4 linked regions of the Homo sapiens genome follow. The protein of the gene in region 4 interacts with the protein of the main gene of each other region in a pairwise test. Each region holds a gene or a part of one and is shown on either strand. Other genes may lie near its edges.

Region 1 (7,915 bases), on a different chromosome or scaffold from region 4:
CTTTTTACTCCATGACAATGAGAGAAATATAATATTCCTAATTTACAGTGAGTAAACCAAGGTTTAGTAAACTTAGAACATGCATCTATTCTAGGTTCCCAGGGGTTTCATCCTTTGACTTTACTCATATGGCTTCAACTGTCACTTACATGTTGTTAATAATGATTGGGATGATGATGCTACAATGGTAACGTTATTGATCAGTTGTTATGTGCCAAACATTGTGCTGAGTGATTTACTTGTATTATCTCATTTAATCCCCACAACGACCTTTGAGATTATTATTATTATTCCTTCAATTTTTAAAGATAAAAATACTGAGGTTTAGGGAGGGTACACACAGCTTATAAAGGACAGAACCAGAAGTCATGACTTGGTCTGACTGCAGAGCCTGATTGATCTCTTGCCTGCCAGATTGATTTTTAAATTTTCATTGCTGGCTGCCTTATACTACCTCCAGTTCAGATTTGTCTCCTAGCTGCAGACACACGTATCTCACAGGTGACTGGACACTTCCACGTAGATGTCCCACAGATAGCTCAAAATGAACTTCTCCAAAACTGAACCCATCCCCTCCCCATATCGGCTCTCGTTTTTGTTTCCCTCACCCCTTATATAGCTCTACCATTCATCCACTAATTCTCACAGATCAAAAATCTGAGTGTTTGTCTGTATTCTGCCTCACTTTCCTGATTTCTGTACCCAGTCCCATTGATACGCCTTCTAAACCTCTTTCCCACCTGTCTGTCCTCTCCACCCACATCTCCACTGCCTTTGCTTAGGCCACCATATTCTCATCTGGATTATTGCTGACAGTGTCCTAACTCTTCTTTACCCCACCAGTCTTGCCTTTTCCTCTCTTCCACTCTTTCACTAACTCCAGACTGATCTTTCTGGAAAGAAAAAAACAATCCACTGTGTCATTCCCATGCTTAAATTGTTCCATTGCCTTTCCAGTGCCTTTGAGGGATCCATGAGCTACCCTAGCCTACCTGCCTAATCTCGTTTGCTTTAGAAACCCATGTCCAAGCTGTACAGGACTTATAGCCCCTCTGAATGCCCTATGTTCCTCATCTTCCTCAACTCATTCATGCTATTCCCTGCTGCCCTTCAGCCTTTTTTTTGGCCTTATTACTGTCCTCAGGTCCTCAGCTCAGGTGCCACCTCCACCAGGGAGATGTCACTCACTTTCCAAATCTGGGTTAAGTGTCCCTTCTTACATGTTCTCATGGCAACCTGTGTCTCTTCATGGAATGAAAATGAACTATATTGTAATTGCACATCCTGCCAGACCAGGGGGCACCAAACTTTTTTCTGTAAACGGCCAGATAGTATATATTTTAGGTTTTACAGGCCTTATGGTCTCTGTCACAACTACTTAACTCTACCTTTATAGTACAAAAACAACCACAGAATATATGATAATAGAAAAGCATGGCTGTGTTCCAAGAGAACTTATTTATGTCCACTGAAATTTGAATTTCACATAATTTTCATGTGTCACAAAATATTAAAAAAAATTTCAACCATGTAAAACTGTAAATGCCATTCTTAGCTCGAAGGCTGTACAAAAACAGGTGGGTAGGCCAAATATAGCATATCAGCTGCCACTGGCTGATCCTTGCACTATTCCATGAGCTTCTCACAGCCAGGGCAGTGTCTCATCTGACTTTGTATTCAAGTTCTTAGTACAGTATCCAGTTTATAGTAGGTGTTTAATAAACGTTTGTTGAATAAGTAAAACTTGCACAGCTAGTAGTAAGTGACAGTGTCAGGATTCAAACCTGAGTCAATCTGAGTTAGCAGTGTGATGTCCCACTGTCCATTTTGTGATTGAAGCTGTATGTGATGTAGTATACTTACAGCATGATATTTGAGATATCAAAAAAGTAATTCTAGAAGCACCTTGGGTATTACTTGAACTCTATTATTACTGTTATTAGTTGCTACTCAGCCTACCCTACCATGTACCCTTCCCATCATCCCCGTTTAACTTGACCTTATTTACTCCATTTCCAGGTATTTAAAATAGTCCAGGATTTGGCCACTTCAATTTTTTTTTTTTTAAATAAAGCTTCTTCAAGCTGTTTTCAGCTTTGGAACCAGAAACCTCCAAACTTTGTAAGTTACATAAATGCTTAGTACATCATAACCTTCAAAAGGTTGCCAATTAGAAGAAATCTTAAGCATTGTCAGGAAATTCCTTCTCTCTATATATAGCCTTATGCATAGTAGACTTGTTGCTTTCTTTCCCTTTTAAAGTTGGAACATAGAACATAAAACCCCAGTACGTCGGCATTGTGAGGTCCTTGTGACCTCACCTTTCAAATAGGATATGGTTACCTGGGAAACTAAGTTAATTACATATGGAACATCAGAGGCTAAGCTCAGGTGGCAACAGGATGGGTCAGATCAAGGAAGACTGAGACTCCGGACCAAGCCTCACGGCTGGTGAGGGCCAGGGACTCAATCACAGGAACAAGGTTAGGAGTTAGTCACCTAAGGCATAGGCACTTGGGGACAGGACAAGAGAAGCAGGACGCAAACCAGAAGCCCGTTTCATTTAAAAAAGAGATTCATGATAAGTAACTCCAATTGTTGGTGGAACTATGCAGTCAGTTAATAGTTATTTGAGAACTTGAATATAAGGCAGTCACAGGAGAAAAAGGCAGAACTAGTTAAAAGAGAACAGCAAATCAGAGTATCAGAAGGTAAAAAGCATAGGGAGGTGAAAAGAGCTTTGGAATTGGAAGGGATGACTTCCAACTAGCTATAAATGACTAGTAAGCCTTTTAAATTTTCTCAATAAACCTTTCTATTAATCCATTAGATGATTAAATTGAATTCAGTTCTCACTGAATATTGAATTGAATACTCATATCGCTAAAGTCCCTTCCAGATTTTATTTTTTGTTTTTTTGAGACAGAGTCTGGCTGTGTCGCCCAGGCTGGAGTGCAGTGGCGTGATCTCTGCTCACTGCAAGCTCTGCCTCCCGGGTTCACACCATTCTCCTGCCTCAGCCTCCCGAGTAGCTGGGACTACAGGTGCCCGCCACCATGCCCGGCTAATTTTTTGTATTTTTAGTAGAGACGGGGTTTCACCGTGTTAGCCAGGATGGTCTACGATCTCCTGACCTCGTGATCCGCCCGCCTCGGCCTCCCAAAGTGCTGTGATTACGGGCGTGAGCCACCGCGCCCGGCCAAGTCCCTTCCAGCTTTAACATTTAGGAATTAAAAACTGTTTTAGAATTGAAACCACAAATTGTCCTGGTTTCAGACAAGTTTGGTACCTGAGCAGGAGGTGAGGATGTATTTACAATTCAAAAGTAGTGGTTTTATAGGGGTAACAAGTCAAGCAGGTCATCACATGGTGTGACTGTTTCTGACTTTACTCTCTCCTATCTTTGTATCATAGCTTCACTCGCTCCTTGTAATGTAGCTGTTATATGACAAGTTCTTTCACTGCTTTTACAAGCTGTACTGCTTCAACACCGGCCAAAACTTCCTAAACTTCCACTGAACATTTTCATCACATTGAGAATACAAGAAACAATTTAAAACAAAAATTTCAATGTGGGTTTTCAAACCTGATCAGTGTTGAAGCTGGATGTAGGCCAGATATCTTACCTTAAAATCTTTTTTTCTTTTTCTTGAGACAGGGTCTCACTCTGTTGCCCACGCTGGAACGCAGTGGTGTGATCATAGCTCACTGCCTCCTGGCCTCAAGCAATCCTCCCTGCTTGGCCTCCCAAAGTGCTGGGATAACAGGTGTGAGCCACTGTGCCTTGCCCCATGCCTTAAAAACTTTTAAGAGTGGGATAAATGGACCATATATCTTTACTGCTAAAATGACTTAAAATTCCTGCACAATTCATGTAGCATTTCGGGAGTAGCAACATCCCCATGTACGTTTTTACCTAGGCAGTTCATCAGTAAAGGTATTTGTCAAGTGGCTTTCTTGTAGCCGGGAAGAAAGTGCATGTTAAAAACAACAACACCGGGCTGGTTTTTACTTTGTAAGTTTGAGCAAAGTGGTAGCTATACCAAACCTGGGAGTGGCTGAATGTCTTTCTATTTAGCAGTGAAAGATGATAGGAAACCAGCCAGATGGTCCTGATTTTAGGGTGAGATAGAGAGGTAAGCTCCAGATCTCATATAGGTTGCCTTTATTTCTGAGCTGTTTCTCACAGGACGGTGAGCTAAACGCTGGGTGCTTTTCCATGCAGAGATTCCTGTTTGGGGCTGGGATCAGCCATCCTACTTCACAAACAAGGAATATGCGGAAGAAGGAGTATACACAACGCTAACAACCCCAATATCAATGGAAACCCCACTTCCCACACTTTTCCTTTGGGACATCTCCCCCACCCCCCACTCCTCCCGCGTTACACGTTGCCAGGCTGCTTTGGGCGTTCCTTCCTCTGTAGTGCATTGCACGGGTACGTCATCAAATGTGCGTGTACACGTGCCAGATTCGCCTTTAAACGGTAATCTCCCCTAGGTCCAGATCGTGTACTTTCCCGTATGTAACGGTAGTGCAGTACCTGAACTATTAGTTATTTAAGTAATACGTAATGAATGAAGAGCTGAAACTGCAACCTGTTGATGGAAGAATGAATGAACGCGCTCCCCTCCTTCCTGCGGGGCTGCGCCGAGAAAATACGGTTCTGATTTAGCCACGACGTTAAAGGCTTTGACCTGTAGGGGGAGGGGAAAGAAAAGACGGGAAAAAGAAAACCAAAAAACAAAAAACCGGAAAAAGGGAAAAAGCGAAAAGGGGGAGGTCGCTCGGCCGCTCGCAGGCTCAGCCCGGTGGCCCCGCCCCGCGGCGGCCGGTGGCTGTGCGCGTGCGCAGGCGGGAGCGCGGCGGCTGGTCCAAGCCCGGCGCTGGGGGCGCGCAGCCGAGAAAGGGTTTGACGTGGCAGTTCCCAGCCCAGCTGCAACTCCGAGCGTGAGTCCAGGCTAAGGGGACGCCGGCCGGGGAAGAGGCGCGGCGGGAGAAGCGACCGCAGCGGGAGCCCGGCCACCGAGGGCTGCCGGCACTAGGCGCAGAGCCGCCAGCGCTCGGAAGCCCGCGGGGTGCGGGAGCGGGAACAGGTAAAGCCTCCCACCCGCGGACGCCTTCATGCGGGACAGCCCTGCCCAGGCACAGCGGAGCGGGTTGCGGCGCCCGGCCCGGGGACGCGGCGGGAGGCCGGGTGCTCACCTGAGGCAGTGGCGGCGGGAGGAGAACTCATTCTTTGTTCTTTAGCCTTCTAGTGCAGTTTAATAGTGGGGCCGGCGGGATGGGGGAGCAGGAGGTGGGCGTGGGCATTTTTTACCCGCCCCCACCTTTTGCCTTGGGATGCAGGAACTGCCTTGTTAGGATCCTCAGTGGCCACCATTCGAGTGTCATTGCCAGCGGTTTTCTCATCTCCTTATCAACTTAATTTCCTTTTTTGAAGGAAGGAAATGTTAGAAATATTCATGGTAAAAATGGCAACTATATCTTGAAGCCTCGGGACATCCGAATAGTGAAACTGATCTGGCCAAATACGAACTTGTTCCAGGGTTAGAAGTGCACCTTGGCTAGAGTTGCTGGGTGACAGTGAGCCAGGGGGCCGTTCTGGGGTTGGGGCTCCCCAGATTTTGATCCTAGGCCTGCTTATACCAAGTGGCTTTCTGCCGTGTCGCCGCTTGAAGCTGAGTCAGGTTTCTTTAACTTGGTGCTCTGTGTGAGGAAGTTTGACGTGGCAAACTGGGTTGCGTGAGGAAGCTGATTCCTCTGAGGACCAGTTCAGAGGGAACTGGCTGCTTCCTGTTCTTTGGAGTGACCATCTCAGCCTCTCTTTTCTGTCACTCAGCAACAGGCTGCTACTTAGGTGTGTTCGTGCCGACTTCCTAAGTGCTCTTGGTTGGATGAGCTTGACCAGCGCTCAGGCTGCCACGTCTCTCTCTGCTAAGTGGGAGGAGGAAAAAGGGGTTGTCAGAAACAAAGTGGACCAGAAGGCCTTTGCCTGCCTCTCTCCTCTTTTTCAGTTCTCCCCTTCCCAGGAGAAGGAAATGATCTCATAATATTTTTACATGGTTGCTTTTATTTTGGAAACTTATAGTTTAATATGGAAACAAAATCAAATCACAAATTTTAGGCTTCAAATTTTTAATTTGAAATGTTATTTCTTGAATATAGACAGATTCTAAGTCTTAGCAGGTATCACTGATCTCTTATCTTAAATTGTAGCAAATAAAAGAACAAAAGGAAGAATATGCTTGTATGGGGCAAATAAACTGGAGATAAATTGTAGAATCAGTGGAAATCTGGAAAGGCTTCATTTTCTAAAAGAAGGAACTGAGGCTTAGAGAGGTTCTTCAGCTCATTCCATGTCACACAGTTAAGTATGGCAGACATAGAATGGAAACCCACTTCTCTTGCATTCAAAGCATTTTCTGTCGTATTTAATTTTTTTTTTTAAATCATCAGTCCTATGAAATATCTCTTATTTTGTTAAAACCTGGAAAAAATAGAAAATTTAAAGCAAATTTGGGTTCTGATTAGAATCAAGATTTAAAAAAAATCAAGATGAGTCTGTTATATTTGTGATGTGTGTGCCTACACACTTACAAAATTACACTTTTTTTCCTTAGTCCCCTAAATATAGGTGCATATGTTCTTAGAGATGTGATATGATTTAAATTAGAAAGAAATTCTGTCGCCTTTGAAAAACCACTGACAACACTCAAGTGGTTATAGTGACCACCTGGCTCGGTCAAATTATGACTCATAAAATAAGCCCATTATCAACGTTGTCTGTTGCTATGTTTGTTGGACTATGATTTCTCTTTGTCCTAATGACTAGATTAAAATAATTAATTAGATGAGCACTAAAAAGACGTAAGTCATAAAACATCTGATTGCAGGCTACTGGCAGTTATGGTGGTCAGTCAATTGAATGGCATGGTGTGCTCTGTGCTGAAATGTGACCATGGAAACCAAAAGCACAAAATCATAGGAACACTATGAGAGACTATCTGTGAGATGCTTCAGGCTTCCATTAAAAAAGTGGTTGCGAGTTATTATTCAGGTCTCATGCTTGAGAATTTGCCCAGGATTATTGAAGTGATTTACTGAGTTTCAGAGAGCTATGGTTAGGCCCTTTTTAGGGGATAATGATATATTGTATAATACAAAGATTTCTCATGTACCTGATATCTGTACTTTTCCTCAAACCATCATAAACATGTAATAACAGTGTTTATATTTTTAATAGCTTTACGTAACTAAAACTGTCTTGGTAACATGTTTCTTGTTTCTCTGTTGCAGACTTCTTTTGTAGAATTATCCTATGGAATGATATTTTCATAATGAGTCAACAAGGTTACGTGGCTACACCTCCGTATTCTCAGCCTCAGCCTGGAATAGGCCTTTCTCCACCTCATTATGGGCACTATGGGGATCCGTCGCACACAGCATCTCCAACAGGTACAGTGTGTTATTTTGACTTGTATGTGATTATTCAGTTCTCAGGCTCAGAGACATAAGATGTTCTGAAAGAGGAGATTTGAAAGCATTGAATGATCATTATATAATGAAATGGCTTGAGATTACAGGATCATTTGGAAAAGGCTCTCATAGCAGAACTCTACATCACTAGTTTGGTTATTGCATGCAATACAAGTTTGGTTTTTAAATATAGACTAAAACAAACACTTCCTGTTTTATTTTTACTGTGAGTCTTGTTCTTGCTGTTAATTAGTGGTGTAAGGCTATTGTAAACATTGAATAAAAAAAGAATTAAATTTATAAATGAATTAAATTCACATATCCTTATCTAGGATTGGCCCTAGATAAATCTGTACATCATGTGAGGATAATTCTTTGTACAATTCTTTGTACAAATGGACCATGTATAAATCAATGAGTAACTCTCAGGGCTCAC
Region 2 (5,848 bases), on a different chromosome or scaffold from region 4:
TTCAGGTAACACTGGAGAGTGGCCCTGTCCAGTTGCCCTCAATTACCAAAGAGCTGTTAGAAAACAGCAGCTGAAAGACTCAAAAAAAGAGAACTCAGGTCTGTCACCCAAACTGGGTGATGGTGATCAGGTGCTTCCACGTGGATACCCTTCAGTCTCACTGGAGAGTGGCCCTGGCCAGAGACCTGCAGTTGCCTCCATGTTCACATGCTATCTGCTGAGTCTCAAGTTGGAAAAGGGAAAGAGAGAGAGGAAAAGGTTCCCCTGTATGGAGTGGAGCCCTGCACAGAGATATAGCTCCAGCCCATGCCGAAAAATGAAGGCTTGACAGGGAAAGAAAAAGGAAAGAAGAAAAGAAAAATAACCGCCCCCTTCCCCTGCACCGCAATTTGGACTTACCTCCAGGCTGGCTTGCCAAAATATGTTACTGTCGGAGGGTCTTGACTACAATTTGTCCAGGTTCTTGGAATGTTGAATGAAGAACTGAACAAATTGCACAAATCAATGAAACAATGAAGCAATAAAAGCACAGATTTATTGAAGCAAAAGTATATTCCACAGAGTGGGAGCAGGCTAAAGCAAGCTGCTCAAGAGCCCCAGTTGCAAAATCTGGGGTTTAAGTACCCTTTAGGGGTTTCCTATTGGTTACACCCTATGCGCCACCAATCGGAGGCCGAAGTGAAGGCTCCCAGTCTCCAGACTCTTATTCTCCTAGCTCAAAGAAATCCACTGATTTCCTCTGTAGCATCTTCAGGTTCCATCTTGACAACTTCCTCTAAATCCCCAGGGGAAGAGTTGTTTAGAGACTCCTGGATGCCCTGAGGGAGCGGCTCCAGAGCTTGCCTTCCCTCCTCTGTTTTCACAACGGTCCAGCGATAGGCACTGTTCTCTGACAATCCTTCTTGGCACTGTTTATCGACTGGTGGAGGCCCTGGGCTATGTTCCACTTTGGGGAAAACAGTAGCAGAGAGAGGAGATAGTTCCTGGGGCTCTAATTTGGGTTCTAGGCCCTGAAAGGCATTTTCCCCATCAGCCACAGCACAAGCAATGTCCACATTCATGTGGGCCTTATCTTCAGGGGTGGATGGTATAGGAAGATTCACAGAATTGCCAGAAACAATTAAGGGTGAGACAGAGGAGGCCACAAGGGGCTGGTTCAATGGACAGGGGAAGGAAGTAGGGTTAACCAAGAGGGTGGCGATGGGAATAGTCTGGGGACTCTGGGCCACAGCCGCATTGACAGGCTGGATCATGTTACAGCCACCGCCAAGGCTCACAATCTTCACAGTGGTAGCAGGAACAGTGAAGATAACAGATGCAGGGTGGATAACAGGGGCAGGTTTGATACAGCGAAAGGCCCTGGCTCCCCTTCTTTTTGAGGGTCTCCGTCTCACATATGGCTTTCGAAACATGGAAGAGGCAGGGGAGGGCATCATTACCTTGGGCACAGGGGCAGAAGAGAGCAAAGTCTGGGACTCAGACAGAGGGAAGCTTGTCCTGGCCTCAGGGGGCATAGCAGGCAGTGCTGCAGGAGACTCAAAACTCTCACCTCCACTGACCCCCAGTGGAGGGACACCTGGAACTGTCTGTAAAACAGTGGCTGGCTGTATTGGGTGAGGAATCCGGAGCACCATTTTGCTCGGAGGGGCTTCTGAATGAGTTGATTGGGCTGGTGTTTTCCCAGGGTTGAAGCTGGGCTGGAGAGAGGGGCTGGGTTGGATAAGGAGGGGTTTCAGGACTGATGAACGCTTCTGTCTCCAAGCCTTCTTGGGGAAACGGTCGGCAACTGGCTTCAGTTTCAGGACTACACCCTTAGGCAATAGCAGTGGGTACCGAGTTTCACTCCCCAACTCTGAGTTGTCTTTTTCTAGGCCTTGATCTGAGTTGATCTCAGTGGTTCCAGTCATATTTCCTACCTCTCTAGCACCATCAGCCATGTGCCGCAGTTCTTCCTGGATGGATGGCAGACTGGCCTATTGGAAATGAGAACACTCTGATCCAGCACATGTCAGAATTTGGGAAAAAGAATAGGACTTTCTAAGTTTAGGGACCTGAGACAAGCTCAAGGCATCTTTCCAAGGGACTCTGCATATGAAATTTCTACAAAGACCACAGTCCAATTATACACTTTAGAAACTCTTCTCTGAATTTCCTTTAGCAAATTACCATTTTACCCATTATTTTGAAAATGTTGTAGAATCACCCGGAGAAGGGCAGAAAAGTAAGGGAAGAAAGGTGAATCAGGAAGATTCCTGAAGTCCTAGTTCTACAACTAAAGCATTAGACGATTAAGGAAGTCCTTGATATTCTCTCAGAACTTTCAGTGACCTTCTGCCTCCTACAGACTTCGAGGAAGAGGGCTGTACCTTTAACCAGAATGGGAGCCGGTGTTCTTCTCTCTCTATAGGTGGCTTCCACTGATGTGGCTGGATCTCTTCACAGCATTTTCCTAGGACTGGCAGCTGTTTGGTCTTCTTATAAAACTTAACATGAAAAAAATGCGCATGAATTACATTCCTTCTGGAAACACTGTCTTCTGTCAGGCTGGTGAATGGGGTGGTGGTGGATCAAGAGAAACACACACACACACACACACACACACACACACACAAGACCACATACACAAACATCCATGAACACACATATACGAATAGCATATGCTGAATACTTGTACATTTCAAATTAAACTAATCTCTATTTAAAGATTTTATAGTTATTCAGTATTTTCTTTTTGAGACGGAGTCTTGCTCTGTCGCCCAGGATGGAGTGCAATGGCGCGATCTCCGCTCACTGCAAGCTCCACCTCCCAGGTTCACGCCATTCTCCTGCCTCAGCCTCCGGAGTAGCTGGGACTACAGGTGCCCGCCACCACACCCGGCTGATTTTTTTGTATTTTTAGTAGAGACAGGGTTTCACTGTGTTAGCCAGGATGGTCTCGATCTCCTGACCTCGTGATCCACCCGCCTCGGCCTCCCAAAGTGCTAGGATTACAGGCGTCAGCCACCGCGCCCAGCCCTATTCAATATTTTCTAACTGATGATCTCCATTCTGGTTGCCAGGAAGGGGAGAGTTTAGGTCACAGAGAGAAAAGGAAGCAGATGCTAAGAGCAATCTTATGTAAGATTTGTTCCTGCTCAACAGCTGCAAAGACAGCATCGTAATCTATAAAATGGACACATCAAAGACTTTAAGCAAATGATGGTGTGAAGGGCATCAGAAGGGAAGGAAAAAAAAAAAGACCGAGGCAGTTCAGTTTTAAGAGTAAATAGGCTGGCCTTGGTGGCTCACATCTGTAAACCCAGCACTTTGTGAGGCTGAGGCGGGCAGATCACTTGAGATTGAGAGTTTGAGACCAGCCTGGCCAACATGGTGAAACTCCATCTCTACTAAAAATACAAAAATTAGCTGGGTGTGGTGGTGGGTGCCTGTAATCCCAGTTACTTGGGAGGCTGGGGCAAAAGAATCGCTTGAACCTGGCAGTGGGGGTGGTAGGGTGGAGATTGCAGTGAGCCAAGATCATGCCACTGCACTCCAGCGTTGGTAACAGGGTGAGACTCCATCTCAAAAAAAAAAAAAGAAGATAAGAACTGAACTTAAACCATGACAATAAGCATCTGTTCATCCAACATGATGAACATAAGATGTTTTCTATATCCTAGGCACTGTGCTAAAAGCTAAGCACACACATAAGGGAAGCAATTCCTGCTCTCATGGAGCTTACAGACTAGTGGGAGAGTCAAGTGGACAAATGGCATCCTACATTAAAAAATGTACAAAGGGCTGGGCATGGTGGCTCATGCCTGTAATGCCAGCACTTTGGGAGAACGAGGAGGATGGATCACTGGAGGTCAGGAGTTCATGACCAGCCTGGCCAACATGGCGAAACCCTGTCTCTAATAAAGTACAAAAAAAAATTAGCTGGGTGTGGTGGTGCACGCCTGTGATCCTAGCTACTTGGCAGGCTGAGGCAGGAGAATCACTTGAACTGAGGAATTAAGAGGTTGCAGTGAGCCAAGACTGCACCACTGCACTCCAGCCTGGGCAACAGAGCAAGACTCCAACCCCGACACCCCGCCCCATCCCCCAACAAAAGTACAAAGGTGTGCACGAAAAATGACACAAAACTAAAACTTAAACACAAATTACTTCTGGCCAGGCGTGGTGGCTTATGCCTGTAATCCCAGCACTTTGGGAGGCCGAGGCAGGCAGATCACAAGGTCAGGAGATCAAGACCATCCTGGCCAACATGGTGAAACCCCATCTCTACTAAAAATACAAAAATTAGCTAAGTGTGGTGGCGCGTGCCTGTAATCTCAGCTACTCGGGAGGCTGAGGCACGAGAATCACTTGAACCCAGGAGGTGGAGAGTGCAGTGGGCCGACATCACGCCACTGCACTCCAGCCTGGCAACAGAGTGAGACTCCATCTCAAAAAAAAAAAAAAAAATTATTTCTGCAGAAGAATAAGGTTTATCACGTGTGCCTTAAAACCATGGATACGCCAGGCATGGTGGCCCACACCTGTAATCCCAGCACTCTGGGAGGCTGAGGTGGGTGGGTCACGAGGTCAGGAGTTTGAGACCAGCCTGACCAACAAGGTGAAACCCCGTCTCTACTAAAAATACAAAAATTAGCAGGGTGTGGTGGTGAGCGCCTGTAGTCCCAGCTCCTCGGGACGCTGAAACAGGACAATTGCTTGAACCTGGGAGGCAGAGGTTCCAGTGAGCCAAGATCACGCCATTGCACTCCAGCCTGGGCAATGGAGCGAGACTCTGTCTCAAAACAAACAAACAAACAAAAACAAAAAGAAAGTACTTTTTAAAAAACCATGGATAAAAATAGACAAATACTAAGGCATATTATCATGCATTTTCAAAATATTGAAGCCAAAGGAAAAATCCTGCATGCTGTCAGAGGTTGAGAAAAACAGGTGTTACACAAAGACTCAAGAGTTAAATGGGGCCATGGCTCATGCCTATAATCCCATTACTTTGGGAGGCCAAGACAGGACGAGCACTTGAGGCCAGGAGTTTGAGACCAGCCTGGCCAACATAACGAGACCATGTCTTAAAAAAAAAAAAAAAAAAAATTAGCTGGGCATAGTGGTGCACACCGGGTTGGAGACACCAGTGAGCCATGATTTAGCCACGCTCCAAACTGGGCAACAGGGTGGGACCCTGTCTCGGAAAAAAAAAAAAAAAGTTAAATGGCATGAAATTTCTTAACACCACACTAGGAGTTAGAAGAAAATGAAGTGAGGCCCTTAAAAGCTTCTTAAAAAAATTATTTCCTATCTAGAATTCTAGATACAGTGACAGAGGAGAGTATTATTTTTTCCTTTTATTTTGAAATAATTATATTCATAGGAAATTGCAAAAAATAGTACCAAGAGGTCCCATGTACCCTTCAACCAGTTTCTCCCAATATAATGTTTTTATGTTACATAGAAACAAGAGCTATACATATAAACAAGGTACACAGTACAATATTACTACCAGGAAACTGGCCAGACATGGAGGATGTGGTGGCTCATGCCTGTAATCCCAGCACTATGGGAGGCCAAGGTGGGCAGATCACTTGAGGTCAGGGGTTCGAGATCACCTGGCCAACATGGCAAAACCCCATCTCTACTAAAAATACAAAAATTAGCTGGGTGTGGTGGCTAATCCCAGCTACTCAGGAGGCTGAGGCAGGAGAATCGCTTGAACCCAGGAGGCAGAGGCTGCAGTGAGCAACAGTGAGACTCTGTCTCAAAAAAAGAAAAAAAATAAAACAAAAACAAAAACGAGGAAACTGACATCGATACAATCAAAAGACCATGAATGGAGATTTTTTTTTTTTTTTTTTTA
Region 3 (7,155 bases), on a different chromosome or scaffold from region 4:
ACTCTCTGTATTATTAGCAGGATGAACAATAAAACAACCCAGGCTAGGCTTGGTAGCTCATGCCTCTAATCCCAGCACTTTGGAAGGCTGAGTCAGGAGGATCACTTGAGGTCAGGAATTTCAGACCAGCCTAGGCAACATAGAGAGACTCATCTCTACAAAATATATATAAAACATTATATATATAATATACATATATCTTTACATTAGGCCGGGCGTGGTGGCTCATGCCTGTAATCCCAGCACTTTGGGATGCCAGGGTGGGCGGATCATTATGAGGTTTGGAGTTCAAGACCAGCCTGGCCAACATGGTGAAACCCCATCTCTACTAAAAATACAAAAATTAGCCGGTTGTGGTGGCACAGGCCTGTAATCCCAGCTACTCGGGAGGCTGAGGCACGAGAATCACTTGAACCTGAGACATGGAGGTTGCAGTGAGCCGAGATCGAGCCATTGTACTCCAGCCTGGGCAACAGAGTGAAACTCTGACTCAAAAAATAATAATAAAATATATACATTATATATATATATTATATACTTATATAAAAAATGGGGCCTGGTGGTATGCACCTGTAGTTCTAGCTACTGGGGAGGCTGAGGTGTGAGGATTGCTTGAGCCCAGGAGTGACAGTGAGTTGTGATCCTGCCACTGCACTCCAGCTTGAGGGACAGTTTAAGTAAGATCCTGTCTCAAAAAAAAAAAAAAGGCAAAATACAAAAAACCTGTAGAGGCCAGGCACAGTGGCTCATGCCTGTAATCCCAGCACTTTGGGAGACCAAGGTGGGTGGATCACTAGAGGTCAGGAGTTTGACATCAGCCTGACCAGCATGGTGAAACCCCGTCTCTACTAAAAATATAAAAATTAGCTGGGTGTGGTGACACGTGCCTGTAATCCCAGCTACTTCAGAGGCTGAGGCAGGAGAATTGCTTGAACCTGGGAGGAGGAGGTTGCAGTGAGCCGAGATAGCGCCATTGCACTCCAGCCTGGGAGACAAAAGCAAAACTCCGTCTCAAAAAACAAACAAACAAACAAACAAACAAAAAACCCTGTAGAAATGGAACTTATAAAAAGACTATGAAAATTATATTTTAAAAAAGAGGTCTGGGTACCGTGGATCAGGCCTGTAATTACAGCACTTTGGAAGGTTAAGGAGGCAGGAGAATCGCTTGAACCCAGGAATCAGAGGTTGCAGTGAGCCAAGATCACCACCACTGCACTCCAGCCTGGGCAACAGAACAAGACTCCATCTCAAAAAAAAAAAAAAAGATGTGGAACAAATGTCTGTTGGACTGTATCAAATCAACATAGTGACAGTATCTCTAATACAGCATACCACAGTGGTCAAATCCCTTTAACATTTCAATATTATGACAACTACACTCATATATAAATGTTGAAGCACATTTGAGGATTTGTCATTTAAAGTTAATGTAAAACTGCAATTTATAGATTATAAGAAAAATCCATAGCCATGTAACATTTTTTCTCATCCTCAGTGTAAATGTTACTAAATATTCTAGAATAAAATGTAGTGTACATAATCTGTTACCATAATTTTGAGAAAGAATGGTTAACTCAGTACCCTTTCAGTGGCTTTCCTCCACTTATTCTTTCTTCTGCCCACATAGTTGCCTACTCACAGACATTTTTAAAAGTCTTTTAGAGCCATCTTTGTAAAGAAAACAGCGGTCTTCTCTAAAAACAATGTAAATTAGAGATTTTAGTCACTGTCTGTATTCTCCAACTTCACAGAACTCTTAGACTCTAATGGGCAACTTAAGTTCTTTAGCATTATTCTACTAGTCTTATTTCTGTAAACCAAAGATTTGTAAGTAAATTGGTAAGTAGGCAATCTGTCGGCAGAAAGTCTTTGTCTATTGTAACAACTGAAATAATCTTAGCAAATCACAATGTAGGACGATTTAAGGAATCCTAGAAGAGGTATAAAATTATAAGACATTCTCACATCAAATGACAAACTATAATGTACATGTAGACTCTTGTCAGAGATTCAGAGAGTTGTGTCCACCCACTTTCCAAATGCTGTCCAGACATCTAGAAGTCAACCAGGAGATCCTCCCTTCTATTTGGTTTTTCCACAGCTGAAACATTGAACAGCTGTTGTAGGTACAATTCTGGGAAGGTTCTGGGAGAGATGAGTAGGCCCTAAAGGGGTGTCCCAAAAGCATGCATTCATCTCCAGAAACTCAGACTGAGTACGACCCCCACCCCACTTCAGGGCCTGCGGAACCCAGAAGAATCAGACCCCACATCCTGCTCTCTAGGAGACTGGGGTGAGGTGGCAAGGAAGGCGAAGGCACACAAACACTATGATCCTTATATTCGAGTTTTGAGGCATTTTCTCACCCGTGTTTCACCCAGGGCGTTGCATACAGCAGGTGCTCATTTACTGTTTTGGTGACCGACTAAATAAATGTGAAAGACTGAGACGAGCCTGGGGCTACAGGTGCACAACTGCCGTGGTCCCCTGGCCCAGCCGCCCACCACCATCCGCGCCAGAACCCGGTAAGGAGGTCACTCTCTCTATCTATGTCGCCTCAAGCAGCAGTGGCACGCAAAGGTCAGTCAGCCCTGGCCAGGCTGCGCCCTCCCCCCGGACAGCACTCACCGTTGGTGTAGGGAGACCCCGAGGCCAAGGCGGCTCCGTTCTGGGCCTGGAGGCTGGCTGGGGCGCCGCCGGAGGCCGGTATTCCCGGCTGGGACATGATGACTGGGTTGGAAGGGGCTGGTCGGGGTCGACAACAGCGCACAAGAAGAGAGCTGAAAGACCACTGCTGAAAGCGGAGGGAGGAGGCTAACGACTTAAGACTGAAGACTGGGAGAAGAGGGGGGGGCGCATTAAGCCCGAGGCATGGCGCCGCACTCTCCCCAGGCCACCGGCGGCCACAGCCTAGCCTGGGAGCTGAGGCTTGAGAGTCGGGCCGGCGGGGCCGCGAACGCCCGGCTAGAAGGCGGCAGCCAAACCTAGAGAGAAGGAGGGAGGCCCTGGCCGGAAGTGCCTGTCAGCCGCCGGCCGCGCAGCCGCAATCAGGACACGTGGCACTTCCGGCTCCGGGCTCGCAGCAGCCGCCGCCGCGCCGGCGAACTCTTCTCTGCCAGCCGGGCTGCCCCGAGGCCACCTGACAGCTCCTGGTGCCCCGACCCCGACGACCGTGCCCGGCCTCGCCGCCACGTCACCGACTCTCACGGCCGGCCGGAAGTGCCGTGTGTCACCGCTACGGAAATTCCCGCCGTTGTGAACGTGACCTCGCTCGCAGAGCCAGGATCGTGGGGCAATCTGAGATTCAGTAGCCGCTTTCGTGGGGTGGGACTGACAGTTCCTCTCCTCGGGTTTTGTGAAGATTACCTGAGACCATAGAAGTCATCGTCCTCTGTTGAGACCGTACCACCACTGGGAGCTGGGGCGGTTAATGTTCATCGCAGTATTTCATTCACATTTCGTCTTCGTGTTTCAGATGTAAATTATAAGGGGTTTTAAAAAGAGGTGGTTAAATATGTGTACATGTTAATAGTGTGATCAAGCCAAGAAGGAGGCCTTTGTCTTTGACTGGAGGACTCAGAGGAATTTTAATTTTGAAACTCGCTGATTCACAGCATAGTCACGCTCAAGTTCATTAGCACATTTAAATGGCAGTTTTGTTTCCTCTTCTAAGAGTTTACAGTAAGGTAAAGAACTCAAACTTCCTTTCAGAGCAAGTAGACTTTTTTTTTTTTTGCAAGTTGACTTTTTTGACTTTTGAAGCCAAAGGGAGGTCGAAACTGCGGTGATTGGACAACATAGTTAATTAATGATTGAGTAATCATCTTAGCTGCCTTCATTCTATTTAGGTTTTTCCTGCTCTGTGCTGACGATAAAGCCCTCCTTTACAGATTTGTACTGTGGATTAAAATGTCATGCCACGCGGTTTCGAAACCTCAGTGTGAAGTACATCTTACCTAATTCATTTAATACCAAATGCCTGCTATGAAGTGTTATATTACATACAAAAAAAAGCCAGATCTAAACCACTGTGTCGGGCTGGGCAAGGTGGCTCACTCCTGTAATCCAAGCACTTTGGGAGGCTGAGACAGAAGGATTACTTGAGGCCAGGAGTTTGAGACCAGTCTGGACAACAGGGAGAGTCCCCTTATCTCTATTTAAAAAATATATATATATATATATTTTTGAGACAGAGTCTTGGTCTGTTGCCCAGGCTGGAGTGCAGTGGTGCCATCTCCGCTCACTGCAACCTCCGCCTCCTGGGTTCAAGCAATTCTCCTGCCTCAGTCTCCCGAGTAGCTGGGATTACAGGCTCCTGCCACCATGCCTGGCTAATTTTTGTATTTTTAGTAGAGACAGGGTTTCACCATGTTGGCCAGGCTGGTCTTGAACACCTGACCTCAGTTGATCCACCCGCCTCAGCCTCCCAAAGTGCTGGGATTACAGGCGTAAGCCACCATGCCCAGCCAATGTTTTTAATTAAATAAATTTTTAAAAAGTGGCCAGTGTGGTGGCACATCCCTGTAGTCCCAGCTACTCAGGAGGCTGATGTGGGAGGATCACCTGAACCCAGGAGTTCGAGGCTACAGTGAGCTGTGATCTCACCACTGCACTCCAGCCTGCATGACAGAGTGAGATCTTGTCTCTAAGAAAAGAAAAAGAATAAACCACTGTGTCAGGCCTAAAAAAGGTCAGTAAAAATTCAAATAACTAAATACTAAATTTTATACTAACCCTGTTTTCATCATTTGCCTCAGAACTTTACTAAAAATGTATTTGCTCGGGCGTGGTAGCTTACAACTGTAATCCCAGCACTTTGGGAGGCCAAGGCGGGCGGATTACCTGAGGTCAGGAGTTCAAAACCAGCCTGGCCAACATGGTGAAACTCTGTCTCTACTGAAAATACAAAAATTAGCCAGGTGTGGTGGCACATGCCTGTAATCCCAGCTACTCAGGAGGATGAGGCAGGAGAATTGCTTGAACCCAGGAGACGGAGGTTGCTGTGAGCCAAGATTGTGCCACTGCACTCCAGCCTGGCTGACACAGCAAGACTGTCTCAAAAAATAAAAAATAAAAATAAATAAATATTTGCTGTAAGTAGCATTTAACAATTCAATTCCTTTGTACAAGATCCAAGTACAATAACTTTTTTTTTTTTTTTGAGACAGTCTGTTGTCCAGGCTGGAGTGCAGTGGTGCAGTCACAGCTCATTGCTGCCTCAACCTCCTGGGCTCAAGCAGTCCTCCAGCCTCAGCCTCCTGAGTAGCTGGAACTACAGGTGTGTGCCATTATGCCTGGCTAGGTTTTTATTTGTTTGTTTGTTTGTTTGTTTGTTTTTGTAAAGAGAAGGTCTTGCAAGAGATCCTCCTGCCTCATCCTTCCAAAATGAGATTACAGGTTTGAGCCACCACGCCCAGTTAAAATCTTAAGATGAAGATGATACTTTTGGTCAAATTGTTTACAGTTTGGAGCCACTATAACAAAATCCCAAGTTATAGATCCAAAAACACTTTAAAATTGCACAGACACAAGCCTCTCAATGTTTTGAAGAGGAAATAGAGCTCAGAGAGAAACAACCTTTCTGAGGTCAGACAAAATCAGGGTCACTCTTCAAAGAGGCAAATACCTGATCTCAAACCTGCATTAGTTTAATTATCTCTTTTTATTCAGCTCCTTTTGAATGATCTTGATTTGTTTTGACCTTGGCACAGTGGTTTGATTTGGTTAAATCAAGGTTTCTTTGAACTTTGTGCTATTTAAGCAGTATCTGTGTGTTCAGAGATTTTTTTTTTTTTTTTTTTTTGAGACGGAATCTCGCTCTGTCGTCAGGCTAGAGTGCAGTGGTGCGACCTTGGCTTGCTGCAACCTCTGCCTCCCGGGTTCAAGCTATTTAAGCAATATCTGTGTGTTCAGAGATTTATTTATTTATTTATTTATTTATTTATTTATTTTGAGACGGAATGTCGCTGTGTTGCCAGGCTGGAGTGCAGTGGTGCGATCTCGGCTCACTGCAACCTCTGCCTCCCGGGTTCAAGTGATTCTCCTGCCTCAGCCTCCCGAGTAGCTGGGACTACAGACGCATGTCACCATGCCCAGCTAATTTTTGTATTTTTACTAGGGACAGAGTTTCACCATGTTGACCAGGCTGGTCTTGAACTCATGACTTCAGGTGATCAACCTGCCTTGGCCTCCCAAAGTGCTGGGATTACAGGCCTGAGCCACCGTGCCTGGCCCCAGAGATTTTAAAAAGTAGTCTAGTTGGTTAAATCAGGTTAAATCAACATAAATAATTTTCTAATAAGTAAACAATGCTTTCTCTAAAATTTGTTCCACCCCTAAGTTGCTATGTTACTGTTCGTGTCCTCAAAGCAATGATTAAGTATTTCAAATGGTTTTTACACTCTCGGTGTAATCAGCACTACAGTATTGAGGAGAGCTGGGCATGGTGGCTCACGCCTATAATCCCAGGACTTTGGGAGGCCAAGGCAAGTGGATCCCCTAAGCCCAGGAGTTGGAGAACAGCCTGAGGAATATGGCAAAACTCCATCTCTACAAAAACATACAAAAAATTAGCTGGGCATGGTGACGTATGCCTGTAGTCCCAGCTGCTCAGAAGACTAAGATGGGAGGATCGCTTGAGCCTGGGAGGTTGATTGTGCTACTGGACTCCAGCCTAGGCAACAGAGTAAGACCCTGTCTCAGAATACATATATACATATATATAGAGAGAGAGAGACAGAAGAAAAACAGCATTTGTCATCTGCCTAACCTTTGGGATAGTAGGAAGGTAAGTTTAAGTAACTGAGATGGGACAACATATTTTAAAAGTTTTCATATTAAGTATTATCCACACAATATCAAATCATTTGATGACTCATTTAAGTGTGGCCACAGAAATATGAAAAAATTATTGGTGATAGCAATTATAACAATTGCTCTTGGCCAGGCGTTGTGGCTCACGCCTGTATTCCCAACACTTTGGTAGGCCAAGGTGGGTGGATCACTTGAGGTCAGGCATTCGAGAGCAGCCTGGCCAACATGATGAAACTCTGTCTCTACTAAAAATACAAAAATTAGCCAGGCATGGTGACGGGCGCCTGTAATCCCAGCTATTTGGGAGGCTGAGGCAGGGAAAATTGCTGAACCTGGGAG
Region 4 (7,027 bases):
AGTCTTATGTTGGAGGGAAAGAAAGCAACTGTGTACACTTAAAATAATCTGTGGTTTAGTTCCTTATTAGTGGTTGCTTTCATATACTCTCAGATGTTCACTGTTAGTAACTGATGTGCTAGAACATACCACAGAAATATTCTGCATTTAACAGTGAAATTGGCTGGGCGCGGTTTCTCATGCCTGTAATTCTAGCTCTTTGGGAGGCCGAGGCGGGCGGATCATATAAGGTCAGGAGTTTGAAACCAGCCTGGCCAACATGGGTGAAACCCCGTCTCTACTAAAAATGCAAAAATACCGGGGGGGCGCAGTGGCTCACGCCTGTAATCCCAGCACTTTGGGAGGCCGAGGCAGGGGGATCACAAGGTCAGGAGATCGAGACCATCCTGGCTAACACGGTGAAACCCCGGCTCTGCTGAAAAATACAAAAAATTAGCCGGGCATGGTGGTGGGTGCCTGTCGTCCCAGCTACTCGGGAGGCTGAGGCAGGAGAATGTCATGAACCCGAGAGGCGGAGCTTGCAGTGAGCTGAGATCGCTCCACTGCACTCCAGCCTGGGAGACATAGCAAGACTCGGTCTCAAAAAAAAAAAAATAGAAAAATTAGCTGGGCGTGGTGGCGCACACCTGTAATCCCAGCTACTGGGGAGGCTGAGGCAGGAGAATTACTTGAACCTGGGAGATGGAGGTTACAGTGAGCTAAGATGGCACCATTGTACTCTAGCCTGGGCGACAGAGGAAGACTTCACCTCAAAAAAAAAAAAAAGTGAAATGGTGCTATCGAAGGGTCAAAATGAGGAATGGCACTGAATAGGTTCTCTGGTTTCAGAATGACCTTTTAGGGTAGGAGAAGGCTATTGTTTTTAAACCCAGAAGAAGAGAGAGAGAGAGTGTGTGTGTGTGTGTTTTCACTCAAAACAGCATAACTGATAGAATTGTACTTTTGAATTGTACTTTTGATGCTTTTATCTTTGATTTCATTGACCCTGTAAATGGGTAACCGCTTTCTCTTTGGCAAAAACATGGTAGTTCACACAGGCAGGAGGGGAAGGGAGCATCATGTGAGTCAAGAAATGGTCGTATGACCTAATTGTCTGGAAAGGACATAACCATATTCAAGAAATCAAACATTACTGTCTCGGCTTAAGCAATTGACATGACTTCCCTACATTGTATAGAGGCTTAATCTAAATATTATAGGCAAATAAAAATTCTTAACTGGGTACCCTGCTATAGGATGAGCAGAGCTCATACCCCATGACTGGTTAGCAGGTAAACAGTATAATTATTACTTAACAAAAGATTTTAGATCTTTGCTTTAGGCAGTCACTTAACTGGCTTGTGTATACAGTCTTGAAAGGACATTGAATTCTGGTTTGAAAGAAGACATTTTAGGAAATCAACTTCTAACCTAGATATATCTGCTCTAGAGGTAAGAAATTAGCTCTGACAAACACTCGTGAAATTACTTTTAAAATGCACAGTGAGTAATCGGAGCCGCTTGGCAATTTACCCTTGGTAGACCACCTTTGCAGTAGCTAAGTTAAACTTAGTGGCTTATTCCTGAAAGGCCTCATTTCCGAGTGTCATCAGATGTATGAAGTCCCATTTGATACTCTGATGCAACAGTATATCCAAGCCATATCTGGAGGGTTTTATATATGAATTGGGTTTTGATAAGTCATCCTTTTTTTTTCTTTTCACTTGTTACCACTTTAAAACAGCTGTCTGTCTCATAATCAGTGGCAACTGCTTTTTCGACTGGAAAAGGGTATGGGACCTATTTCAGCTCAGGAAAAGTTAGTACTTCACACCCTCTCTGGTTTTTCTGGGTTGGTTGGTTGGTTGGTTGGTTTTTGAGATGGAGTGTTGCTCTGTTGTCCAGGCTGGAGTGCAGTGGCGAGTGCACCCACCACCCAGGTTCAAGCAATTCTCCTGGCTTAGCTTCCCGAGTAGCTGGGACTACGGGCATGTACCACCATGCCCGGCTAATTTTTGTATTTTTAGTAGAGGCAAGGTTTCACTATGTTGGCCAGGCTGGTCTCGAACTCGTGACCTCAAGTGATCCGCCTGCCTTGGCCTCCCAAAGTGCTGGGATTACAGGTGTGAGCCACCGCACCCGGCCTGCCTGTTGATTCTTTGGACTTTGCTTAAAATATTAATAGCTCTAACTCAGTCTGCTGCAGCCTTGATGTAAAGTGTTAGGGCCAAGAGGTAATAGAAACCCCTGGAGTTTTCCTTGGAACTGAGATTAATTTTCGTCATTTAACAGGGATACTTACTTCCAGGTTCATCTGAGCAGGGACTTGGGAGGGGTCTCTTTGCCTTACTCTGGTGTTTCCATTACGGAGACTTTGAGCCAAGTTAGATTAGTTTATGGCAGCCCAGTTTAGGAAATGATTTTTTTCTGGTTGGTTGGATGGTTTGGTTGGTTTTTTTTTTTTTTTTAAGATGGAGTTTTGCTCTTGTTGTCCAGGCTAGAGTGCGATGGCACAATCTCGGCTCGCTGGAGCCTCCGCCTCCGGGGTTCAAGTGATTCTCCTGCCTCAGCCTCCTGAGTAGCTGGGATTACAGGTGCCCGCCACTCTGCCCAGCTAATTTTGTGTGTGTGTGTGTGTTGTTTTTTTTTTTTTTTTTTTTTTTTTTTTTTTTTTTTTGACAGAGTCTTGCTCCGTCGCCCAGGCTGGAGTGCAGTGGCGCCATCTCAGCTCACTGCAAGCTCCGCCTCCCAGGTTCATGCCATTCTCCTACCTCAGCCTCCCAAGTAGCTGGGACTACAGGCACCCACCATGATGCCTGGCTAATTTTTTGTATTTTTAGTAGAGACAGGGTTTCACTGTGTTTGCCAGGATAGTCTCGATCTCCTGACCTCGTGATCCTCCTGTCTCAGCCTCCCAAAGTTCTGGGATTATAGGTGTGAACCACCGCTACCAGCCAATTTTTTGTATTTCTAGTAGAGACGGGGTTTCTCCATGTTGGCCAGGCTGGTGTCCAACTCCTGACATCATGCAATCCACCTGCCTTGGCCTCCCAAAGTGCTGGGATTATAGGCATGAGCCACCGCACCTGGCAGTTTGTTTTTTTTGAGATGGAGTCTCTCTGTTGCCCAGGATGGAGTACGCGATCTAACAGCTCACTGCAGCCTTCACCTCCCATGCCCCAGCAGTCCCTCCCACCTCAGTCTTCCAAGTAGCTGAGACCACAGGCATGTACCACCATACCTGGCTAATATTTTTCTATTTCTGTAGAGGTGGGGTCTCCCTATATTACCAGGCTGGTCTGAAACTCCTGGGCTCAAACCATCCTCCTGCCTCAGCCTCCCAAAGTGCTGGGATTTTTTTTGTTTGTTTGTTTTTGAGACGGAGTCTTGCTCTGTCGCCCAGGCTGGAGTGCAGTGGCGCGATCTCGGCTCACTGCCAGCTCCGCCTCCTGGGTTCACGCCATTCTCCTGCCTCAGCTTCCTGAGTAGCTGGGACTACAGGCGCCCACCACCATGCCTGGCTAATTTTTTTTTTTGTATTTTTAGTAGAGACAGGGTTTCACTGTCTTAGCCAGGATGGTCTCAATCTGCTGACCTCGTGATCCGCCCTCCTCGGCCTCCCAAAGTGCTGGGATTATAGGCATGAGCCATTCTCGCCTGGCCTTGACCTGGTCTGTTTTTAATAAATGAGAAACATAAACCCACAAATTCTCTAAATTTATGATGCCATGGACTTACGTAAATGTTACTTCAACCTAAAACTTAACATTATTGTTAGTTTCTGGTCTTCAGCAGTCCCCTTTGAGAAAAAGCATTTATTCCCTAACAGATCACTTCTCCCGGATCACCTAAACTGGTAGCACACAATATCGCAACGCACTTTTATAGCGTTTACTGTGATGAATGGAGCATATTAATGTCTCTTCTGTGGATATGATTGATTCTCCCCCTTCCTTAGTGTTGTCTTCAAGCAAATATAGTTGGACCGACACTGAGTTTGATGTAGTTTACTTTAGGATTGTATTTATTATTGTATTTATTTCCAGGCTTAATCATAACATTGCTTATTGCTCGTAGCTTTGTAGCATTCTTACCCAGGAGTTTTGTGGTTGACCAACCACACAAAAAAAGTCACTTTTTAATTTTATTTATTATTTCTCCTCTTAGACCGCAGGATGGAAACAAGCCCACTGAGACTAGTCAACCTCAATCTAGCACAGGGGGTTACAACCAGCCCAGCCTAGGATATGGACAGAGTAACTACAGTTATCCCCAGGTACCTGGGAGCTACCCCATGCAGCCAGTCACTGCACCTCCATCCTACCCTCCTACCAGGTCAGTCTACTTTTTGTGGCAAAACAAAAACAGTGACAAAACAGTTTTTTTCAGGTTGTTGACCAGCTTGCTTTGACTTCTTCAGCTAAGGTATGTTATCTGACTGTCGCAGTGATAAGTCATCTGACCATACTTGGTTACATTAAAGCCTGAGATCTAGGGTCCCATAGTGTTGCCTGGCAGCTAATAACTATTCTTTTTTCTTTTTTTTTTTTTTTCCCCCGAGACGGAGTCTCTCTCTGTCGCCCAGGCTGGAGTGCAGTGGCGCGATCTCGGCTCACTGCAAGCTCCACCTCCTGGGTTCACGCCATTCTCCTGCCTCAACCTCCCGAGTAGCTGGGACTACGGGTGCCCGCCACCACGCCCAGCTAATTTTTTGTATTTTTAGTAGAGACAGGGTTTCACTGTGTTGGCCAGGATGGTCTCAATCTCCTGACCTCGTGATCCACCCATCTCGGCCTCCCACAGTGCTGGGATTACAGGCGTGAGCCACCGCACCCGGCCCAGCTAATAACTATTCTTTCTAAATACAAAAACATTTTTACCACTCTAAGTTCTTTCTTTAAGTTTCTTCCTTTTGCTGTTTTAGTTAACTCAGATGGGAAGCAGAAGTATATGAAAGCATGTAAATAGATGTAAGAGCCATCTTCCCCAATGCAGTTAGGATAAGTAAAGCGCAGGGCATTATAATTCACCTTAATCATTTTACATTTTACCTAACACATAAAGGTTTATTCATGCACTAACCTTTTAATGTATGGGCCAACTCTTTTTATTTTATTTTTATTATTATCGCCTGGCCAAGTTTTCTTTTTTGAGACAGAGTCTCACTCTGTTGCACAGGCTGGAGTGCAGTGGCACGATCTCCGCTCACTGCAACCTCTGCCTCCTAGGGATTCTCATGCCTCAGCCTCCCGAGTAGCTGGGACTGCAAGTGCATGCCACCACACCTGACTAACTTTTCTTTTTGTTTTATTGTTGTTTTGAGATGGAGTTTCGCTCTTGTTGCCCAGGCTGGAGTGCAATGGCACAATCTCGGCTTACTGCAGTTTCCACCTCCTGGGTTCAAGTGATTCTCCTGCTTCAGCCTCCTGAGTAGCTGGGATTACAAGTGCTCACTACCACACCTGGCAAAAATTTTTTTTTTTGTATTTTTAGTAGAGACAGGGTTTCACCATGTGGGCCAGGCTTGTCTGGAATTCCTGACCTCAGGTGATCCACCCGCCTCCACCTCCCAAAGTGCTGGGGTGACAGGCGCGAGCCCCTGCGCCCAGCCAGTTTGTTTGTTTGTTTTGAGATGGAGTTTTGCTCTTGTTGCCCAGGCTGGAGTGCAATGGCGTGATCTTGGCTCACCGCAACCTCTGCCTCCTGGGTTCAAGCGATTCTCCTGCCTCAGCCTCCCTAGTAGCTGGGATTAGATACAGACGCCACCACAACCGGCTAATTTTGTATTTTTAGTAGAGACGGGGTTTCTCCATGTTGGTCAGGCTGGTCTTGAACTCCCATCCTCAGGTGATCCGCCTGCCTCGGCCTCCCAAAGTGCTGGGAATACAGGCATGAGCCACTGCGCCTGGCCCAGTTTTTGTATTTTTAGTAGATACAGGGTTTCACAATGTTGGCCAGGCTGGTCTTGAACTCCTGGCCTCAAGTGATCCGCCCACCTTGGCCTCCCAAAGTGCTGGGATTATGGGATTACAGGTGTGAGCCACCATGCCCAGCCTGCAAGTTTTCTTAACCCATGTTTAATTAGATGTGGGTTTTCAAATTGTTTGAATTGTGCCCTGAAAGTTTTGCTAGAAGTAGCGGTTCCCTTTTTTGCACTCATTTCATTGTTTTGCAGCAGATGTGAACAGGTTTAGGAACAAGTAGAATTGATTGGGTGTCTCTCCATACAGCCAGCTTGGAGCAAAAGTGGGTAGGGCTTACAACCCTTCTTCCACAGAGCAGGTTCGTACCTATTGCATTGAGAGCAGTTAATAGCAGTTAATCTGGCAAGTTGGATAGGTACACAGTGAGAGATTATTGAATTCATACAGCAATGGTGAGGGATGTGGTGTGTTAGAAGCTTTGTTTGTTTGTTTATTTTTGGAGACCGGGTCTCACTCTGTTGTCCAGGCTGGGGTACAGTGACACAGTCGTAGCCCCCTGTAGCCTCGAACTTCCTGGCCTAGTTTAATCGGACTTTAAAATATGTGTCCTTACTGTTTCTCATCATGATTTGTAAAGCTTAATACCAGATGGGTTTTTTTGTTTTTGTGTGTGTTTTGTTTTGTTTTTTTGAGACGGAGTTTCACTCCTGTTACCTAGGCTGGAGTGCAATGGTGCGATCTTGGCTCACCGCAACCCTCGCCTCCCAGGTTAAAGTGATTCTCCTACGTCAGCCTCCCAAGTAGCTGGCATTATAGGCATGTGCCACCACACACAGCTAATTTTGTATTTTTAGTAGAGACGGTGTTTTTCCATGTTGGTCAGGCTAGTCTCGAACCCCTGACCTCAGGTGATCCACCCGTCTCTGCCTCCCAAAGTGCTGGGATTACAGGTGTGAGCCACTGCTTCTGGCCCTTGTTTTTTTTTTTTTTTTTTTGAGATGGAGTTTTGCTCTGTTGCCCAGGTTGGAGTGCAGTGGCGCTGTCTTGGCTCACTGCAGCCTCTGCCTTCCAGGTTTAAACAGTTCTCTTGCCGCAGCCTCTCGAGTAGCTGGGACTATAGGCGT

The links.
Region 1: the proteins of EWSR1 (region 4) and SEC24D interact in binary tests that used the Homo sapiens proteins (3 or more experiments, as listed by UniProt).
Region 2: the proteins of EWSR1 (region 4) and YY1AP1 interact in a two-hybrid assay, tested with the Homo sapiens proteins (2 studies listed by BioGRID and IntAct).
Region 3: the proteins of EWSR1 (region 4) and SEC24A interact in binary tests that used the Homo sapiens proteins (3 or more experiments, as listed by UniProt).

What each region holds. Positions count from the first base shown.
Region 1 is NC_000004.12:118,833,122-118,841,036, reverse strand, and holds the start of SEC24D (protein transport protein Sec24D), read left to right. Parts: upstream 1-4,910; 5' UTR 4,911-5,096; intron 5,097-7,299; 5' UTR 7,300-7,340; coding exon 7,341-7,458; intron 7,459-7,915. UniProt on the Homo sapiens protein: Component of the coat protein complex II (COPII) which promotes the formation of transport vesicles from the endoplasmic reticulum (ER).
Region 2 is NC_000001.11:155,658,941-155,664,788, forward strand, and holds the end of YY1AP1 (YY1-associated protein 1), read right to left. Parts: intron 2,484-5,848; coding exon 2,367-2,483; intron 1,994-2,366; coding exon of another isoform or gene 1,974-1,993; coding exon 717-1,973; 3' UTR 514-716; downstream 1-513. UniProt on the Homo sapiens protein: Associates with the INO80 chromatin remodeling complex, which is responsible for transcriptional regulation, DNA repair, and replication. Enhances transcription activation by YY1. Plays a role in cell cycle regulation.
Region 3 is NC_000005.10:134,644,650-134,651,804, reverse strand, and holds the start of SEC24A (protein transport protein Sec24A), read right to left. Parts: upstream 3,021-7,155; 5' UTR 2,729-3,020; coding exon 2,632-2,728; intron 1-2,631. UniProt on the Homo sapiens protein: Component of the coat protein complex II (COPII) which promotes the formation of transport vesicles from the endoplasmic reticulum (ER).
Region 4 is NC_000022.11:29,278,244-29,285,270, forward strand, and holds part of EWSR1 (RNA-binding protein EWS), read left to right. Parts: intron 1-4,146; coding exon 4,147-4,314; intron 4,315-7,027. UniProt on the Homo sapiens protein: Binds to ssRNA containing the consensus sequence 5'-AGGUAA-3'. Might normally function as a transcriptional repressor. EWS-fusion-proteins (EFPS) may play a role in the tumorigenic process.